Regions from separate parts of the Homo sapiens genome. Here region 1 is linked to region 2. The links come from fine-mapping of genetic effects on gene expression. A gene starts in region 2. The other region holds a variant in brackets. All regions are shown on one strand. Distances are between the middles of the regions. Region 1 overlaps ICE2 (interactor of little elongation complex ELL subunit 2). Region 2 holds the start of ICE2 (interactor of little elongation complex ELL subunit 2).

What was found. PIP is the estimated chance that this variant, and not a neighbour inherited with it, causes the effect.
Region 1: its variant is the best candidate, but not a certain one, in a credible set for the expression of ICE2 in whole blood (TOPMed, PIP 0.90).

What each region holds. Positions count from the first base shown.
Region 1 is chr15:60,418,736-60,424,099 of GRCh38, reverse strand. ICE2 (interactor of little elongation complex ELL subunit 2) reads left to right here. Exons shown (of 16, transcript NM_024611.6): 16 at 338-4,491. The coding sequence ends at 466. Among named protein-coding and RNA genes, the nearest start is that of ANXA2, 23 kb to the right of the region's middle. The variant A/G (reference allele first, on the strand shown) is at 2,069.
Region 2 is chr15:60,476,360-60,481,725 of GRCh38, reverse strand. It overlaps ICE2 (interactor of little elongation complex ELL subunit 2), which reads left to right and starts at 2,584. Exons shown (of 16, transcript NM_024611.6): 1 at 2,584-2,723; 2 at 3,657-3,789. The coding sequence starts at 3,749. It overlaps RORA-AS1 (RORA antisense RNA 1), which reads right to left and starts at 2,548. Exons shown (of 6, transcript NR_120342.1): 1 at 2,328-2,548. RefSeq lists enhancers at 2,783-3,310, 3,633-3,752.

The sequences.
Region 1 (5,364 bases), 58 kb after region 2:
TTATTTCAAACACATCACACATAAGGCCTGTCATTCCCTTGATTTCTAATTTATCTTTTCAACCTCTAATAAATTTAACACAGAGAATAGTTTCCCCATTCACTTTGCTCCCCATCTACTCAGATCTATCAACTTCTCTGATGGTTATTTGAAAGTTTAGTACTTAAAAATGTGTCAGATTAAAACTTGTTTAGAAACAGCCAGCTAGCTGGAGATGAAAAATATATAAGAGCTTATTTGCAAGGTGGTTAATACATGTATAAATACTACAGAGTTGACTGTATATAGGTATGTTGTAGATACATTAAGCTATTCTGTTCTCTGCTTCATCTCTTAGATTGGTGGAACGAGAATGCCTACACGCAGCCACAGGAATCCAGTTTCCATGGAAACCAAAAGCAGTTGCTTGCCTGCTCAGCAAGTTGAAACTGAAGGAGTGGCTCCACATAAAAGAAAAATAACTTGAGGACTGTACCATGGAAAACTAAATTTAAAAAAACAGTTATAACAGTGTTTAATTTAGATAAGTTTGAGGGAAAATAATCAGTAGGCAAGAGGAACATTTTTCCTGTAGTAGCTAGAGTGCCTTGAAAAAATGTGTTGGCTATGTGAAGGAATATTTCAACTAAAATGGAATGGTATGCTTTTCACCCTTGAAGTTTGAGGAGGATCTTGATATGTTTTAACATTATCATGGCAGGGAAATATATAAAGAAGAAAAATATTTTTACATTAAACCTTTTCTAAAAATTGTAAATAGAAAAATAATTTGGTTTTTTATCAAGAACAACACTTATCGTTATGTATTGTGTTAGTTATATTGCCAGTCTGTTGCGACTGACTCAAAAAGTTAAATGTTGCCACTGCTGAAGATGATTATGAGCATCGCAAACTTTGTTTCTGACCCATTTTGACAGTTTTTATATACTCCTTTAAAATGATGAATGTTACAGGTTAATAAAGTTAATACCTTTAAAAACTTGGTGAAATTCCATTACAGAAGCCAAAAATAAAAACTCCCTGCCTCTGAAAAGTCAGATTACTGACTTCTTGTTTGGCAACCATCAGTTTGTTTAATAAAAGAAAAAATTTGGTGGTATAACATGTTTGATGACAGATGCCTCTATCTCTAGATTCAAGCTGAGTGTTGAAATACACTGCTGAAAGCAAAGAGATAGGTATGTTTTCCAGAAAAAAAGTCAGTGTCATTGCTCCAGATGACAAGGTTAATGTGGTAAAGCATAAGCTTTTTTTTTTTTTTGAGATGGAGTCTCGCTCTGTTGCCCAGGCTGGAGTGCAGTGGCATGATCTCAGCTCACCACAACATCCACCTCCTGGATTAAAGCGATTCTCCTGCCTCATCCTCCCGAGTAGCTGGGACTACAGGCACCTACCACCAGGCTTGGCTAATTTTTTTTTGTATTTTTAGTAGAGACAGGGTGTTACCATGTTGGCCGGGCTGGTCTCAAACTCCTGACCTTGTGATCCGCCTGCCTTGGCCTCCCAAAGTGCTGGGATTACAGGGGTAAGCCACCGTGCCTGGCCAGCATAAGCTATTTTTATCCTCATCTATACTGATTGATTTAAATTTTCCGGGCCTGCAGATGAATTTGGAAAAGGGCATAATCAACTGATGTTGCTGTAGCAAATTTGGACTTAAGAAACTACAGACAGGGCCGGGCGTGGTGGCTCACACCTGTAATTCCAGCACTTCGCAAGGCCGAGGCGGGAGAATCACTTGAGTCCAGGGGTTGGAGACCAGTCTGGGCAACACAGACCTCATCTCTACAAATAAAAAAGTTAGCCGGGTGTGGTGGGGTGTGCCTGTAGTCCCAGCTACTCAAAAGGCTGAGGCAGAAGAATTGCTTGAGCCCAAGAAGTCAAGGCTACAGTGAGTTGTGATCGCACCACAGAACTCAGCTTGAGTATCAGAGTGTGACCCTGTCTCAAAGAAAAAAAAAAACAGGACAGGCTTGTTTAATCTTTAGAACCCTTACACTAAAATTTTCAGAAATTATGTATGTCATTTGTAAAATATAAGTTTTGTAATCCTAGATAATTGCTTCAC[A/G]TTGAAATTTTTTAGCTATTCTGTGTAAAGAATAGCTATTCTTTTGGCCTAATTTCTGAGAAATTAGACCGAAAAATCTCCTCAAGTATTGTAACAGTTGAAAATACTTATATTCAACTACCAAGTTTTGTTTCATTTTGATTTTTTGTTATAAAACATTTTTAAGTTATTTGAGAAGTAATTATTAGTAAAATTGTATCTTGATAAATCATTTCCTCATCCTGCCATTCCCTTTTATAAAACACTGAGTTTTTTTATTCCTTAAGTCACATATCCCAGAAATGTTTTGGTTGTGAATCATTTGCCAGCGAGCCAAGGGAGAGGCAGGGATTCCCTTGAAATGTACTCTTACACTTTTTTATTTTATTTTTAATGTACATTTGTGTGCACCAGAATGGAATGTGCTCTTTTTAAAGAGCTGGACAGTGGTTGCTTCAGACTTCTGAATACCAGAAAGACTTGCCTTTTAATTTTTAAATATTACTTTTTACATCATAAAATGTGTTATCTTATCCATGTATTTGAATAACATCATATATAAAGGTAGTTTTTTGCTTGTGCTTAGTGAAGCCTCCTTTTTTAACATACATTTGATATGCTTTATGTTCTTTTTCTTGATTTTTAGTACTGAGAATTTATAAGCCAAGAAGTAACTGACAATATGTTTAGCAGGATGTAATCCCAGCTACTTGGGAAGCTGAGGTGGGAGGATCGCTTGAGTCTAGGAGTTTGAGGCTGCAGTGAGCTATGATGGTGCCACTGCACTCCATCCTGGGTGAGAGATCAAGACCCTATCTCAAAAAATGAGCAAGTTTTTTTTTTTTTTTTAAATCAGACTTAGGGCTAGCAAGGATGTGATCACCCTGGCCCATTTATACCTCAGCAGTGAAGGTGTAATTTATACACACCTCTTTGAAAACAGTTTAATTCAGTAAGTGAGTGCAACTATGTGCCATGCACTCCAAAGTAGGTCCCCACAGTTATTCTCTCATAGCCTTGTTTTTTCAGATCTCACCATATTTATTTGTTTCTTTGATTTTCTTTTCTTATAGATTACAAGCTCTGCAAGGACAGGGGCATATTTGTTTTGTTCACCATTAAGTAATAAACACCTAATACAGTGCCTGTCATGTAGTTGCTTAGCAGATATTAGTTAGATGCATGAATGTGTAGGTATCAAAGATTTTTTTTTTCAGGAGATCACATTCTAGTGGAAGACACTATACTGCTTTATGTGATAAGTGCTTTGATAAAGTAAGCAAGTCATCTAACCAGATCTTGGTAGTTAAGGTTTTCTGAGATAGAACTTGAGCTGAGTCTTTTAAAAATAGTAGGATTTATAAGGGAAAATTAAAGGTCTTCCACAAAGAAACTAAGTGAAACTAAGCAGCCTATGAAAAGGTGAAAGTTGGAGAGATTATAGGCTATGAACATGGGAGATGAGAGAGAAAACTGCAGGATAGGGACAGAAACACTGTGCTAAGACATTTGAACTTTGTCCTGTGCAATGTGGGAACCAGTAGTGAAGGTTAATTAACTGACATGATCAGATATGTATTTGAAAAGGGCTCTTGTTGGCATTAGTCTAGAGAATGCGATGGAGCTGGGAAGCGAAAGAAGAAATGTTGGGAGCCTGTGTTGTAGTAACTGAAAAATGGCAATGGCCCAGAATTAAAGCAGCAAGAATAGGAGTGGGCTCAAGTGATGTATAAGGAAAAAAAAAAAAATGACAACTCAGTTTTGTTGTTGGTAAGGAGAGTAAAGTATGGCTTCTGGGTTTCTCATTTGAGATACTGAGTAAATGATGGTGTTAACCCATTGAGAAAATAGTGTGGTTAGAGTGGGAAGAAAGTTAATTTAAAATGTTCATTTTTTTTTTTAGTCATTTCTACTTTTGGATTCTAGGTTTGTGTGCTATATTGGTTATAACCAATTTGCTGAATAATAAATTATCCCAAAACTTAGCTACTTAAAACAACAAACATTATCTCACAGTTTCTGTAAGTCAAAAGTCCAGGTCTCTCATGAAGTTGCAGTCAGGCTCTTGGCTAGGGCTGCAGTCATCTGAAGGATTAGTAAGTCGCTAAGCCCACACTTAAGCTCCACCCTTGAAGGGAGAAGTTTGGAAAGAATTTGTGAACATATTTTTAAATCACATATGCTATGAACAGGTTTAGGGGAGGGAGAGGAAAGAAAACTTTAACTTTTCATTAGCATACTGCATCTGTAGTTCCTAATGGGCATGTTGTAAAGATGTTAAGACGTTTTCTATGCATTATAGGTATATAGTAGTATTTTGTTTTGTTCTGTTTTTTTGTTTGGTATGTAGTAGTTTTTAATCAAACCTTAACGTATTTGATATTAAGATTTATTGAGTTTCTTGTTGAGATGTAGAAATAAAGGGGATCCATTTCATTTATCCATCTACTGTTGCCATGTCCCCTTCACTCATGTCCAGTCTACTTATCAAGGTATATAATGGCAGACACATTTACAAGGCATCTATCTGGGATTTGGATCTGCCCTGCCAGGCAAAAATTACTGAAAAGAGTCAAGAACCAGACCTGTGTTTCTAAGATGGTGGATCTCTAGATTACTTACTTCATCAAACAGATTTAAACAGTCAAGAGTTTGCCTTGGCAGATGTGTTTGCTTTCAATATATGAGCTATAGCCTGGTTGATTCTTTAAGAAAGTAGGAGGGAAGCCTGAGTATAAATTTATTGCTGTTTTGAAAGTGAAGAACCCTTATAAAGATTCTGTGATTAGTGGGTTGACTTTCTTCCCTTTTCTTCAAAATCTGTTTCTTTTGGGTGTGGGGAGAAGGAATATTTTCTATTCTCCCTATCCTAGATTTTGCTTATTTAGAAATATACAGCACTGGAGGCCGGGTGCGGTGGCTCACGCCTGTAATCCCAGCACTTTGGGAGGCCGAGGTGGGTGGATCATGACATCAGGAGATCGAGACCATCCTGGCTAACACGGTGAAACCCCATCTCTACTGAAAATACAGAAACTTAGCCGGGTGTGGTGGTGGGCTTCTGTAGTCCCAGCTACTCGGGAGGCTGAGGCAGGAGAATGGTGTGAACCCGGGAGGCGGAGCTTGCAGTGAGCCGAGATTGTGCCACTGCACTCCAGCCTGGGCGACAGAGTGAGACTCCGTCTCAAAAAATAATAATATACAGCACTGGAGAGTATTTACACATAATCCTAACAGACATATGCCAGTAGGGCAAAGCCACATTGATAAACATGAGTATCCGGTCCCTTCCAAGCACTGCCATTAATGCAACATCT
Region 2 (5,366 bases):
ATCACACTACCATGGGCAGGTACCTCCCAGCAGCATGAGCTCTTAAACAATTAGAGCAGTTCCTTCAGGCCAGGTCAGGTGTCCCCAACTCTTCCTGACTGCATGCTTTGTGAGACAGTACCCAACACATGAACTTTTACGCTGCCTTTGTCCTACACAAGCCATCCACATCACTTACCTAATAAGAAATACTATCTGCAGCCAGGCATGGTGGCTCACGCCTGTAATCCCAGCATTTTGGGAGGCCGAGGTGGGCGGATCACGAGATCAGGAGTTCAAGACCAGCCTAACCAACATGGTGAAACCCTGTCTCTACTAAAAATACAAAAATTAGCCGGGCGTGGTGGTATGCACCTGTTATCCCAGCTACTCAGGAGGCTGAGGCAGGAGAATCGCTTGAACCCGAGAGGCAGAGGTTGCAGTGAGCCAAGATCGCCCCACTATACTCCAGCCTGGGCGACAGAGGGAGACTCCATCTCAAAAAAAAAAAAAAAAAGAAAAGAAAAGAAAAAAGAAAAAGAAAAAAAGAAATGCTATCTGCACAGTGCCAGGCATTGTAGTGGTTGATTTTTTTAAGCATTCACAAACACTGTCTCCTAACTGGCCTCCTCCCTTCAATGAATTCCGTAGGTTGCCAGGTGAACTTTCCTGAAGCACAGCCAGCCAGTTCTGATTGTGTCATTATGTAAGCTTTTTTGTTTGTTTGTTTCCTAGCATTTTATTTCTTATGCAATAAAGTCAAACTTCCTTAGTCTGGCTTATAAAATCTTACGTGTTCTAGCTTCAACCAGTTTTTCCAACCCCTTTTCCTCTACTACTCTTCAGAGACCTTGCATTCCAGGCAAAATAAACTACCTATGGTTTCCTGTAGCATATTTTTTACATTAACATAATTTCTAACAATATTCTAAATCAGTCTAAAATGTCAGCCAGGGGTAGTGGCTCACACCTGTAATCCCAGCACTTAGGGAGGCCAAGGTGGGCAGATCACTTGAGGTCAAGAGTTAAAGATCACCCTGGCAAACCCCATCTCTACTAAAAAAAAAATACAAAAATTAGCCAAGTGTGGTGGCATGCACTTGTAGTCCCAGCTACTAGGGAGACTGACGCAGGAGAATCGCTTGAACCCAGGTGGCAGAAGTTGCAGTGAGCTGAGATCACACCACTGCACTCCAGTCTGGGAGACTCTGTCTTAAAATAAAATGTAGAACATGCTTCCCTAATAGCACACACTAGATTCTGTTTATGCAATAAGTTTATGCAGTTCCTTGTATTAAAAAAAATTATAGGAGGCCATTGTTTAGAACTTCTGCACTAGACCCCAAGAGACCAGACTAAAATAAAAATGGTATCACTCAGGCTCACCACACCGAAACTGAGTTATGTGGCCCTCCAAGAAATCAGGAGACAGAGGTAACAGGCCAGTTTCAATTTTCAATCAGCAAGATAATGAATTTCCTCTGTTTTAGTCCCTACAGCAAAGAGTAACTTGAAGTAACCTGATGTTAACCAATCAGTTATCTTTCTATTGTACTGTCTGTCTCCACCTTACCAGGAAAGTAACTTTGAAATGATCAATCTGCTTTTTGTTCTTTGTTTCTACTTTCTACAGACCTTTTTTCTGTCCGTAATGCCAACCTCCTCTGTTCCACTCATTGGGACACTCATTCCATTTTATGGAATGAAGTGTTGCCTGATTCCAGAATCGCAATAAGGCCAACTGAGATCTTTAGATGTGTCAAATTTTTGTCTTTTGACACTTGTGCTGGTCTGTCTAGAACGCCCTTTCTCTTCATTCCACATACCCACATTCTTCAAATGAGCTCACACGGCAGGTGCTCAGTGCAGCAACTGACATGTAAGTACTCAATACTATTCAAAACTGCGTTTTGTCCCTCACACTAGCTATTCCTCTCCCTCTAACCTCAATCTATACACCTTTCTTATGTAGTTTATTACTTTCTATTGTATTTAATGTAAATGTCTTAGATTGCCAGAGATCCAAAGCACTGGAAAAATCAGTATTCAGTCTTAGTCCATGTGTACCCAGCACCAAGCACAAAGTACTCTGTTTACGGTCAATAAATCTTTCCGTAATGGATGAGAACAAAACTAGTGTTTGAACTCACAGCTAAAACTGGATGGGGAGTGGAGCGGAGGTGAAGGAGCACTTAATGAGGCCCTACTATGTGCCAGGTACTGTGCAGAGCACAGCTTCTTCCTTTGTTTCATTTAATCCTTTCCAAAAAACCGTATGATGCAGCAGTAACAATTTCATCTCCATTTTACATATGAGGAGTTTGGGTTACGGAAGTCAGGAAACTTGCCTGAGGTCACAACCAAGTATGTTTGGGTCTTTCCAGTACCGCACTTGTCGCTTGTCCGCCTTCCAATTTATCACTCCCCTCCTCTCCCCGACGAAGGTCGAGGACTTTCTAGGAAAACACGCAGTCTCCAACCACTTCCGCCTGGCGAGCCCAGTCTCGCACTTCGCTGCCAGAACCACAGCGAGCGCTTGTGGCGGGAGGAAAGGAGGGGAGCAGCCGTCAAGACGCAAGGCCCCGCCCACTATGTCGCTGAGACGTCATCACGCAGGGCCGAGTCGGCGCGGCCACATCCTTTAAATATGGTCTTTTTTGGGCGCGCGCGACAATGTGAGGAGTGGGGTGGAGCGTGTGTGGTGTGTGGCTGCGGCCTGGGCAAGAGCCGCCGCGGACCATGAGGTGGGCGGAAAGGCTGTGTTGCAGCCCAGACGCGGACGGGAGGGCGCTGCCGGGCCAGCGGGCGTGCTCATGCAGGGGCGGGAGGAGGGAACATGGCGGCCGGGCCAGGACCCTTTGCTCCTGGCTCTGCGCGGCTCCTACCCCTGCTTTGCTTGCCCTTTTACCTGCTTTTCTGGAACCTTGTTTCCCCTCTCTTTGCGTCCCCTTTCCCTCAGCCGTTTCTTTTGCCTTCCTCGACTATTCCCCCCCAGCTCCACACTGGGTCGAAGTGTGAGAGGTAGATTAAGTGGGAGCCGGTCGGGCCCGTTCGGTGTCGAGAGACCGACTCCTAAATTTGATTAGGTTCTCGCAGGTCACTTTATCAGTCTGCCTGGGGTCACAGGAGAAGTACTGAACATGAGAGATCAAGCCTGATTTGTAGTCCTGATGATGTCTGTAAGTGATCTTGTGAAATGTCACTTAAGTTGACCTCAAGTCTTCTCAAATGTGAGGTTCTTTGTGAAAGGCCTAAGATTCCTGATATCGAGGTAGCTTTTGTCATAAAGTGCCTGCCAGAATCTGCCCCATAACAAAGCATGGTCGGGAAAACAAAAGATTTATTTTGGCAGTAAGGGAATGGAAAACTGAGTTGACTTCCCGTTCCATGCCATCAAGTGGCCTAGTATGTAAGCAATGAGAACACCGTTCTGTTTCAGCTCTTATTTCCATAGTGAGTGTCCTGAGAGTAACACTCCCGGCGTAGATTAAATGGAAAAGGGCTCGTCCTGTATCGTCATTGCTGCTCTGCTACAAAGAACCTTGGGTCTGCTGTATTCTGTTTTAGGTGCCACAGTCTGTTGAGGGTAGATGTTTAGGGAGAGATTCTTCCTCACCTAATAGCACCTGGCCTAGCCAATCACTTGCTTTTGATCTTGGCCTTTTGTTTTTACTCAGCTGAGTAAGTTCTGGAGGGATCCTGCCTCTTGGAGCCTTCGCAGCCAGGCAGCTGTGAACTGTGAGCTAGAGTGAAGCAGAAATCTAGGAAGATGAGCTCCAAGATGGTCATAAGTGAACCAGGACTGAATTGGTGAGTTGTAGCCACTTTGTAATCCACTGAAGAGGAGTGTAGTGGGGCTGATGGTTGACATAAGAAAATAGATTTCTGGCATAGAGAGATTTGGAGGAAACAGAAAATACAAGTTTAGGGTCTCAGAATTTACCCTATCCTCATCTTCACATACGGAATGCTAGAGTTATGGCTGACTGTACTTCCACTCCTATAGTGGAACAACACAGTTCAGCACTCAAATTATTTTTAGGTATAATTCCCTCAGGTATTTATTGTTGGTCTCCTGTGAAGGAGAGATACTGGAATTTTCTTGAGTCCAAGAACCTTGGCCCATTTCCATACAAGTAATAAAAAAGACCCTCTTTAAGAATAGACATGCTTTTTGTTATATTGAAATCTATATCAAATGATATAAATGCATAGACTGTATTTTAAAAGTGTATGAGAACTTTGCAAATAGAGAACCTGGTTAAATAATATAGTGGTTTTGTAGCCATCTAGCTAATACATGTGCTGCTTTAGTTCATTTTAACACACATTTACTAAGCCAGCCAAGGAGGATCAAATGTTATAAATGGTTACAAAGAGTATTAAAATAGTACCTGACTCAGACTATTAAGTCAGTATGTTCATTGAGTATTTGTTTATTGCTAACAACACTCCCATCCCCAGGGAGCTCACAATCCCTGAGACCCTTTACTTTGTTTTTATATGATGTGCAGAAACTTAAGAATTTATTGAGATGTCACAGATACAATACCACGACAAGGTAATAAGAAACTATACTGATGCATAGCAAATAAGACTTTCTAATTTTACCATTAATACCTTAATATAGTTTTTTGGATAAATGCCTTTAAGAACAGTTTAAAAAGGAGAAGAGTATGGAGCAAATATGCTAGAATTTCCTATCTGGGCACTAGGACACCCAGAAGTTACCATTTGATTAGGTAAGAGGTATGCACATTTGCATTCCTTGCCAGTGCTATAAAGTATGCATTCAGATGTAGCACAGATGCTCTTGTATACCACCGGCATTGTGGAACTAGTTGTGGTTTAGAACCTTTGCACAATATTGTAGCCCTTGGAATTATCCTTTTCCACGGAATTTTACTGACCTTTGTCCTCCCTAGTAACGTTAATGGATTCAGTGTTTTCAAGTTTTTAATTCCTTCATTCAAACAGCATTTTTGGATGCCTAACTATATGGAAAGCATTGAATATAATATGTTAGTCTCTAAATTAATTATGGTGTTATGAAAAATCATATCACCTTTGAGGTGGTTTTAGCAAACCAGTTATCCCATTTGCCAAAGTAAACAAAATAGCTAGGCTATTTAGTCTTTGTAGTGTCTTTTGGCTCAGCACAGTAGTGCATGAAACAAAAATAAGTTGAGAAGTGTTTTCAGCAACCAAGTATCTTAATGTTATGTCCTAGAGCCAGAAGTGAGGCCAGCCTTTGACAGACCCTTGATTATACTTCAGTCTTTTCTATCTTTAACTTTCCAGTCTCTGTGACATTTATTTAATTGTGTACTACAGAAAATGTAGAGCTGATTATTGGAGCTGGAGAATTCCATAATGGGCCTGGGTTT